3 linked regions of the Homo sapiens genome follow. The protein of the gene in region 2 purifies or fractionates together with the protein of the main gene of each other region. This does not show direct contact. Each region holds a gene or a part of one and is shown on either strand. Other genes may lie near its edges.

The links.
Region 1: the proteins of KLKB1 (region 2) and TOR3A purify together in Homo sapiens (affinity purification with mass spectrometry; one large-scale study listed by BioGRID and IntAct). This does not show direct contact.
Region 3: the proteins of KLKB1 (region 2) and NID2 purify together in Homo sapiens (affinity purification with mass spectrometry; one large-scale study listed by BioGRID and IntAct). This does not show direct contact.

What each region holds. Positions count from the first base shown.
Region 1 is NC_000001.11:179,094,175-179,096,548, reverse strand, and holds the end of TOR3A (torsin-3A precursor), read right to left. Parts: coding exon 2,332-2,374; intron 1,582-2,331; coding exon 1,331-1,581; 3' UTR 553-1,330; downstream 1-552.
Region 2 is NC_000004.12:186,233,951-186,237,610, reverse strand, and holds part of KLKB1 (plasma kallikrein isoform 1 preproprotein), read right to left. Parts: intron 3,660-3,660; coding exon 3,553-3,659; intron 831-3,552; coding exon 671-830; intron 1-670. UniProt on the Homo sapiens protein: Participates in the surface-dependent activation of blood coagulation. Activates, in a reciprocal reaction, coagulation factor XII/F12 after binding to negatively charged surfaces.
Region 3 is NC_000014.9:52,058,965-52,062,624, forward strand, and holds part of NID2 (nidogen-2 precursor), read right to left. Parts: intron 1,393-3,660; coding exon 1,160-1,392; intron 1-1,159.

The sequences.
Region 1 (2,374 bases), on a different chromosome or scaffold from region 2:
AAAGGCTAGGCATAGTGGCTCACGCCTATAATCCCAACACTTTGGGAGGCTGAGGCAGGAAGATAGCTTGAGCCCAGGAGTTCCAGACCAGCCTGGGCAACATAGTGACACCCTGACTCTATATGTGTGTATAATTAATATATAAAAAACATAGGGAAAAAAGACCTGTGTTATTCCAGAGGCATGGGAGAAGAACCAAGAAAAGGGGAAAGGCACATAATGAACACTGTGTCTAGGCACAGTGCTACATGTCTACACGGTGCCATTTAATCCTCAGAATGACTGCTTTTCTTTTTATAGCTGAGAGTACAGGAGTGAACATTTTCATATATAAGAGCAATGTGCTATGGGAGTCTCTTCAGTAGGAGGTTGGCATGACTTGGCTTCACTGATGTGGTCCCAAAGCAAACAGACTAGACAGGCAGACCAGTCACATACCCTGCCAGCTCCGTGTGTGCCAGCATCTGCCCTGTCTCTGCCAGGCCTTATCAGGATTACCCAGTGTTTGTTTGAAATTTTGCTAGGTCTCAGAAACAGAAAGTACGCCAAGGATTTTAGGAAAATCAAAAATTTTAATCTTATCATCTTTACATACAACAAACATGTCAAGACCCCCTATTGTCTTTGAAAAGGTCCCCCCTCCCCCGCCAAAATCTGTAGACCATAAGTCTTGGCCTACACTGACCTGGTTTGTAAAATATCTTCCTCTGTGTACTTTTCCCTTCAGCCTCAGGCTCTTGGCTGATTCGCTCACAACAGAAGCAGCTTGGCTTTCCTCTGGAAGTACCAATTTGAAAGCCCACCAGCCTGCAAACCTAGAGTGTATTCTCCACCCCTGGGTCACAGAACTTCGTTCTCCCCGGCTCTGTAACCCAAGGACCCTACAGCCTCTGAGGCCTAACACCCAAGCTCTTCCTTGCAGAAGAGCTGAGATGCTAAGGAGACCATCTGGAGTGTCATAATAAGCCCTTGGGATTTGCTGAGCTCCCACATGGCTTTCTTCAACCACCTGGCCCACTTTCTTCAACCACATTCCACTTTGGAATGCGTGTCTTTAAGGCACCAAGTGATCTTAAGAATGGGCTCTGTTTTTGAATTCAGCAATCCAAGTTCCTATCTATCTCGGTGGGACCTCCAAAAAAAAGAAAAAGGATTGGCTTGGCTTCTAATGTAAGGCCTGCCTTTTACACACCAGTTGTGTGTTTGTTAGTGGCTGCTGGATGCCAGTCCACACCCTCAAACACCTCACAGTCCCAAACGGGGTGCTCCTACAGGTCCCAGGGTCCTGTTAGTGGAAGAAAGGCAGTTCCAGGAAGTCTTCCTCTAGCCTTCATGACAGGAAGTAGTTAATCCTCTGGGAAATAGACTTGCAGCCCTGGGAAGAAAAGAGTTGTTCCTCCTTGGGGACATACACCATCATCTGGGCTATTTCATCCAGTGTCTCTTCTTTATACAGGAGCTCCTGGCTCAGGAAGGCATCCCGTGCACACAGCCTCACGTGACGGTACTCCAAAGGCAGGAAGGGGATGAAGTAGTCAATCAGGTTTTCCTTCACAAGACGGCTGTGGCCAAAGCCATTGTCTGAAAGCAAGACCAAAGTTACATGGAGTCTGACCTAGGACTGAACCTAGCTGGAATTTAGCGGGGGTGGGGGTTGCTGTTGGTTTCTTTGAAACAGGGGCTTGCTCTGTCAACCAGGCTGGAGTGCAGTGGTGAGATCTGGGCTCCTTGCAGCCTCCACCTCCTAGGTTCAAGGGATCCTCCCATCTCAGCCTGTGAGTAACTGGGACCACAGGCGTACAGCACCACACCTGGCTAATTTTTGTTTTTTTTCTAGAGACGGGGTTTCACTATGTTGGCCAGACTGGTCTAGATCTCCTGGACTCAAGTGATCCGCCCGCCTCAGCCTCCCAAAGTGTTGGGATTACAGGTGTGAGCCACCACACCTGGCCCCGACTGAAGGGGCTGGGTGAGGTTGGATCTCATCTCTCAACTCCAGGAGTGCTGTCTGCAGCGTATGTCAAGAACTCTACAGCTGTGTCTCCTTTAGGTAAAGTCTTGCAGTGAGACTCAGAGTCTCAGGCTTCAGAGACCACTGCGCCTGTTCTTGGGGCCAGTGCAAACTACTATTTCCAAGCATTCCCAGAAAAGGAGCTCAGGCTTTCTTACCACTTTTCTTGTGCCCACCCAGGGTTGACAATGTGAGATGATTATAGTCTGCCCTCTGTGTTCCCAAGTACCCTGTCTGCTTCATAAACACACATTCCAACAAACACATTAATTATCACCAGCTGTGGCTCTCACCAGAGGCATATTGAGTCAGTTACTCACCTATGGTCTCCACAATCTCCGCCTGGAGGTGGGGCTCCAGGTG
Region 2 (3,660 bases):
AATGAAATAAACAGAGCTGAGTGTGACTTAAAAGAGAATGCTCAGAAATGGGCTTTTGGAGGGGACGGTATTTGAGGAAAGACCTGCAAGAATCAGCTTTGGAGAAGTAGGGGAAGAGGATGTCAGGCTTTGAAGATGCGGTACAATTACATGCCAGGGGAAAAGAGTAGAGAAACAAATGAAATTAAATGAATTATTTAATTAAAAAATGAAGGGCGAGGCGCAGTGGCTCATGCCTGTAATCCCAGCGCTTTGGGAGGCTGAGGTGGGTGGATCACAAGATCAGGAGTTCGAGACCAGCCTGACCAACATAGTAAAACCCCGACTCTACTAAAAATACAAAAATTAGCCAGGCATGGTGGCGGACGCCTGTAATCCCAGCTACTCGGGAGGCTGAGGCAGGAGAATCGCTTGAACCCGGGAAGCGGAGGTTGTAGTGAGTCGAGATTACGCCACTGCACTCTAGCCTGGGCGACAGAGCGCGACTCCATCTCAATAAATAAATAAATAAATAAAAGATAAAAAAATAAAATAGAGTAAGTAAATGAGGAAAGTGGTTAGAATAAAAGCCCTGTTTGGTTTTTAGTTTGGGAACAAAAGAGGTTAAGAAGAATACAGTGAAATCCTGGAGGCACCAATACAAAGAACACACACCTTGAATTGTACTCACCGGTACTCTGCCTTGTGAAATGTTTGCGTGGCATATGAAAAAAACTGGCAGCGAATGTTACTGGTGCACCTTTTTTGGCATTCTTCAACACTGCTAACCTTAGACACATTAAAATTGACTCCTCTCATATCAACTCCTTTATAAATGTCTCGATGGCAAGCTGTACAAGAAAAATACATAGAGCAAATACAGTCCATTTTCTTTCTAGAGGTAGATTAGATACCCACTACCATTTGGGTTGGTAGTTTAGAATGATAATAGCCCAGTTTTGGCAACTGCTATATTAACTAAGGGATTTAAAATTTTTATTATGTACATAAATTATCGAACTCTGCTTGAAGTAAATACAATCCAATATTTTCCCTAAAGCACTAGCTTTGAAATTGGGTTACTTCACTTCTTAAACTGCAAGATGCATGCAGCAATACAGGTAAATTTCACGTTGAAATTATCAATGAGCAGTGGGAAATAAACAAGGCAATAATAATGAGGACACTGATAATGTGTGCTGAGGTTTGCATTATTAAAGAAACTGATGTGCCTTTGACCTTTCGCATTGAATGAAAGAGCTTCTCTATCTCCCAGTGTTATTTCTTTGCTTTCGACTTCTCCTGTCTGATGACAAATTGCATCCAGATCAATCATTACAAAATGTGGAGAGTTGTTGTTTACGCATGATGAAACCACTTCCATTCTTGCTTTAAAATAGTGTTAACTTCTATTTAAGCACCCTTTTCATTGAGATTTGTCTTACATGCAAAAGATACAGATAATTCTTTTCACAGACAGTGAAGCAAAATTAGGCTCTTTTTTTTTTTTTTTTTTTTGAGACGGAGTCTCGCTCTGTCGCCCAGGCTGGAGCGCAGTGGCGCGATCTCGACTCACTGCAAGCTCCGCCTCCCGGGTTCACGCCATTCTCCTGCCTCAGCCTCCCGAGTAGCTGGGACTACAGGCGCGCGCCACCACGCCCGGCTAATTTTTGTATTTTTAGTAGAGACGGGGTTTCACCGTGTCAGCCAGGATGGTCTCGATCTCCTGACCTCGTGATCCGCCCGTCTCGGCCTCCCAAAGTGCTGGGATTACAGGCGTGAGCCACCGCGCCCGGCCTCTTTTTTTTTTAAAGATTCAAATTTCTTGGTTAGACTTTTGGTTAAGGAAGTAATGTAACCAGAAGTATAAACTGTATACTTTTTTAAAGTTTTATTCCCCAAGATTATGTGGAATAAACCATAATCTACTACAGATACCTTTCCACTCCTAAGAAGTATGGTTGAAGTCATAAAACTAAATTTAAGGGTGGGAAAGACAGAAAATACACAAACTGTCAGGAAAACTATATGACAGTACGATGAGTTGGGCAGGGAGGTGGATTATTCACTGTGGTTCTTAAACACAGGAATTTGCAGACTGTGGAAACGAAGTCTCTTTCCTATTTTTCTGCATGTGAGAAAAGAACAGGCTAAGAGTTGGGATGCGACTCTTACAAATAAAAACTCTTTAAGTGTTCATACGGAAGCTCTAAATGCTTTTGACTAGAATTGTTCTTGAGTGTAGAGATTTTATGTACTTGGGAACAATTTTTCACTTTAAAAAACATTAAAAGCAAGCTAAGTGAGTAACAGTGAGTTTTAGAATACATGAACAATAACAGGAATATTGAGAAAGGCACAAATTACTTTTTCTTTAAATTTTGCTACAAGATACAACAATCAGAAATAGCACTTACTCGAATAATTTATACCAAATTGGATTAACATAAAAATTGATCTTTTAAAATAGGAAATGTACTCCACCTCACGTAGACTACACCTATTATACTGGCTAAGTCAGGCCCACATTTATAATGAAGGCATTGCCATCCTTTGATAACTGGTTAAAATGCAAACAGCAGGCTCAAAGTGTGTACGTATTGAAGAGGTGATATCAATGAGGGAGGAAAGGATGACAAATTTAAAAACATCTGAAATTTGAACCTACAAAATTAATTGTGCATAATGAAAATAAAATAGTAATGATATATAGTCATACATAGAATAACAGCAGTTATTTTAAGATTCTGACAACCCATCAGTTGAATCTTTTCAGCACTTTTCACTTTCTTATCAGTCCCAGTCATGTTTGAGAAATAGTTCATTTGTCTTAAATTTATTAGGATAGCATTGGAAACTGTTTCCCAAGACATCAGTAGCTTCAGATGTCAGAATCAAAGTTCTCTAGCATCCTAGTCCTCAAGTTTCCTTTAGGAAGTATTATTCTTAGCAAGATTTGCAGAACTCAGTTCTTCAATTTGGGCCTAGTGGTATATCACAGAGTTTCTTGATGTCAGCACTGTTGACGTTTTGGGCCAGAAAATTATTTGCTGTGGACGACTGCCCTGTGCCTTGTAGAATGTTGGTCAGCATTCAAACATTCTGGCCTCTACTTAGTAAATGCTAATAGCATCCTCCCTAGTTGTAGCCACCAAAAATGTCTCCAGACATTGTCAAATGTCCCCAGTGGAAGAGACAAAATCACTGCTGGTTGAGAATCACTGATGTAAAAATTACCCTCAAGTGAACTTGAGAGAGATGTTCCCTTGTGTTTTCTTAAAAATTCTTATCTGGAAACGAGACACAATTATTTGGATTCATTTTCTGCAAATCTTACACTTGAGCGCTAACCTCATAAATAATAGAGGCTCATTAAGTATGTGTTGATTTATAAAGACAATAGAAGTGTCCAGATGAATATGGGTCCCTCTTTTGTGTCCAGAATACTGCCCCATCTCCTATCTTTATGAGTGATGCCTTCCAAAAAGCTGTAGCAGTACAAACTTTGAGCAAAAGCTGTTCTAAGCGAGATCCAATATTAACTCAAATGTAGCTAAGAAATTCACAACTTACCACTTATTTGATGACCACATTGCTTCAAGGAATGTCCAGAAACTGCACCTGTTCGATGTACTTTTGGCAGGGTTCCTGTAACACTATCTTTCAAGAAGCAACCAAACC
Region 3 (3,660 bases), on a different chromosome or scaffold from region 2:
CCAATGTGGATCATAAGGATGGGAAAGGAAACAAGGACTCAGCATAAGATAAAATAAGTAGTTCAGCACTCCAGACTTGAGCTTGGATTTTGGCTTTGCCACTTAACTTTGAGATCATAGGCAATTTACTTAACTTCCCTAAGCTCCTCTGTAAAACTGGGAAAATAGTAGTACTAACCTACAATTCTTGTGAGTTTTAATTAAGATAACATCTGGAAAGTGTTTAGCATGATGCTTGGCAAGTAGTAAGTTTTCAATAAATGTCAGCTCTGAGTAAGCAAACCTGGCTATAGTGGTCTCTTTCTGGTAGCCGAGCAGAGTGGATGGCATGCTAAAAGTGTAAGGTGTTTCTATACCTACCCAGGATTGATTTAATGAAGTCAAGAAGCAGTTAAAGGAGGCCAGGAAGTAACCAATGTATTCTATCTGGCTTCTATATTCAGGAAACGAATAAAAGCGAGGGCACCCCTACCTCCCCTCACACACCCCCCAAAAAACCCTGAAGTCAATAAATATCCTACTGGCACTATCTGTACTGGCAAAATGCAGAAGAGCTTATTATTGCACTAGCTAAGTAAGCCCTCTGGATCATTCATTCATTCACCCATCTATTTATTAAATGCCCATTATGGGCAGACACTGATGAGTCTAAGGAATGGGTTCAATTCATTTTAGGTAATGAAGCCAGAGAGACATCCTCAGACTTCTGGAAACCTATAAATCTTAGTTATTTTTCCTGCAAATTACATTGCTCAATTTAATGTTTAACAGTATCTGTCCAAAAGACTAAATCACAATGTTTCCTCCTGTGAAATGATTAATCTGGAAAACCTCAAACTGGGCAGTTTATGACTGGATATTTTTATGTGGTTCCAAGAGCAATGTTTTTCATAGCAAGCCTCAGTGGCTCTACAAATACACACACATACTGTTCTGTTTCCAGTATCTATACCCAATAGAGCAGGAAAAATAAAGGACCTTTTATGTTTTGGTGAACTTGATCCTTCCAGGGTTGAATCTAGTTCCTTGGTTTTGACTTGATGCCTTACTTAGAAGCCACCAATATATTATGTAATGGTCTTATGGTCACTTGTGTTCAGGTACTTCCTAAAAGTCCTTATATTCAAATAGGAAAGGGCTTCAGCTCAATGTTACTTACTGATAGAGATTTTTCACAGACTGTTCAGTGCTAGTCAAGCTGAAATATGGTCCTTCTGACTTCAGATCATCAGCCTCCCCTCGGCAGAAGCCCACCCGAGCTGGAAGCTGAAGCTGGACATTGTAAGACTCTTTGGGGCGGGTTCCAAGGAACTGCAGGCCGTTGGCAGGATAAAGAAAGAGGGCGTAGCTATCAGACCCATCAGATGCCAAAACTGCCTGGAAAGTGTTCAGCTGTGAGGAAAAAAAAAAAAAAAGAGAGAGAGAGAGAGAGAAACATCCTGTAAAAAACAAATAAAAGAAGAAAGAAACAGAATGCAAGCAAAGCATCATAACGTGCAAAGAACTTCCCCTTTTTCAGGATTCCTCCAAATTGTTTTTAAACATAACCTTCTTTAAAATTTCCTCTTCAAGTTAACAATATAATTTCATAAGCAATATTATTTATTATTGCAAATACCATTTGTCAATTTAGATTAATAGTTGAAATACGCATTGGTAAAACATAGGTTAAAAAATATATACTTTGTAAGGTTTCAAACTTCTCTCATGTAAACTCTTTCAGAGCTAAGAGCAATCAGCAAAATTAACTTGTCCATCCTGCAGTCACTGCCCTAGTTTATAACCCTAGGCACTCAGCATCTCTCATTTGCATCATTCATTCATTCATTCATTCATCCATTTATTAAATGACCACTATGGGCAGGCACTGTGTTAGGCACTAGTTGGTCAAAAGGCCTCCTTACTGTCTCACAGCATCACTCTCTTTCCTCTTCCATCTACCCTTTCATACGAGCATCAGGGTTATCCTCATTTCACAGATGAGAAAAAGACACAGGGGCTAACAGGTCTTCCTCAGGTCAGGTGGCAAGTATGTGGTGGTGGGCCAGCCAGCTCTAGAGCCCACACCCTAGGACACCCTAACCCCTCCTCAACATGGCATTCAAGGTGAGTTGTAACCTGGCTGCATACGTCCCTCCCAGGCTCAGTTCCACTGCATCTTTGTCAGACTATTTAATAGTCCCCATTTGTACCATGTCCTTGGATGCTTCTACACTTTGTTCGTGGTTCCCTGTGCCTAGAAAGCCTCCTAACCTTCAAATGCTGCCACTCAGAGGTGTTTGTGATTCCCTATAGAATAATTTCTGTTCTCTGAACCTCTGTAACACCTTTATGGGCATCTCTAGTGAGCATTCACCTCATTATGCTTGGTTAGTTGTTTATATGTTTGTAAACACCATTCATTTATTCATTCATACACTAATTCAAACAGCCAAGTGTCTACTTAAGCACCAGACGTTATGCTTGATGCTGAGGATGTGAAGGAGCAAAAGACAGGCTTTGCCCAGGAGAGTCTCACGGTGTAGGACTGGGAAACAGCCATGGTTGAAATGGTAGGAGAGTCACTGGAGAAGGTGGTAGAGGCCAAGAGCCGGGGTGTGTGTCCAGGATCTCAGGGTGGAGGTTGGGAGGTGTCACAGAGGCAGCTGGTGAATGTTATAAACACTGCAGGAGCCAACACAGACCAGAGAGGGACCAGGAGCCTGAATCAGCTGCCAATTCAACACCCAGGTCCTTATAGGATCACTCCTTAACATTCTGTTTACCCTCATATTTTCAACAAGATGAGATTTTTGCCTTTACCTTCATTCAGCGACCGCTCCTCCTAAAGATCTGTGAACAGTGCTTGATTCTCAAAAAGCTGTTATGTTTAGGCTTCTGAAACTGTCTCTCTCTCACTAAATCACACTACTTTTACAATTTAGTAAGGAACTGGGAAGGTATTTTTAAAACACAACTTACTTCACAAATAATGTGACTCTTAGAAATATTATTTACTGGTAAGTATCATTACCTTTCCATTCTGCTAGACAGACAAACTCGGGCACAGAGAAGAACATCACATTTCACTGAAGGAAACAGCAAGGAAGGAATGGGCTCTTCCCTTTGTTCTAAGTCTACTCCCACAGTTGTTCTAGCTCTTTTCTAATGTTAATTTTTCCTTTCAATGTTTAATTTCAAAGTAAGGTTTTGAGGTTTTGCTAATAGGATAAAGAAATATAGATGTAACACACTTTTCAAGAGAAAATAAAATACAATCAGCAGTTCTTTTAGTTCTCTAACCCAGAAAAAACAACATCTTGCTTTGCTTTTTTCATTCATTCAATTCACAAAGTAACAGGTGCCTAGTTTATTTGTTATTGTTCCAGTTGTTGATTGTTCATCAGCAAAGCTTGACTTTTCCAAAAACAAAAAGCAAGAAATGTTTTTAGAGCTTCTCAATACTAGGAAGCCACAACTACTGCCAAATATAAACAAAGGCTGTTCTGCCTCATGTCTATCCATAAGATAGTCGACATCATCAACTAATGTGGACTCAATAACTTCAGAGTTATACATTAGTCAGAATAAAGAAAAATCAACTAGGGAAAGAAAAGTACTAGAGGAAGGAGAAAAAACCCCATTTCAAAAAGCTAAGCTTTCAAAGCTCCTGGCATTGAT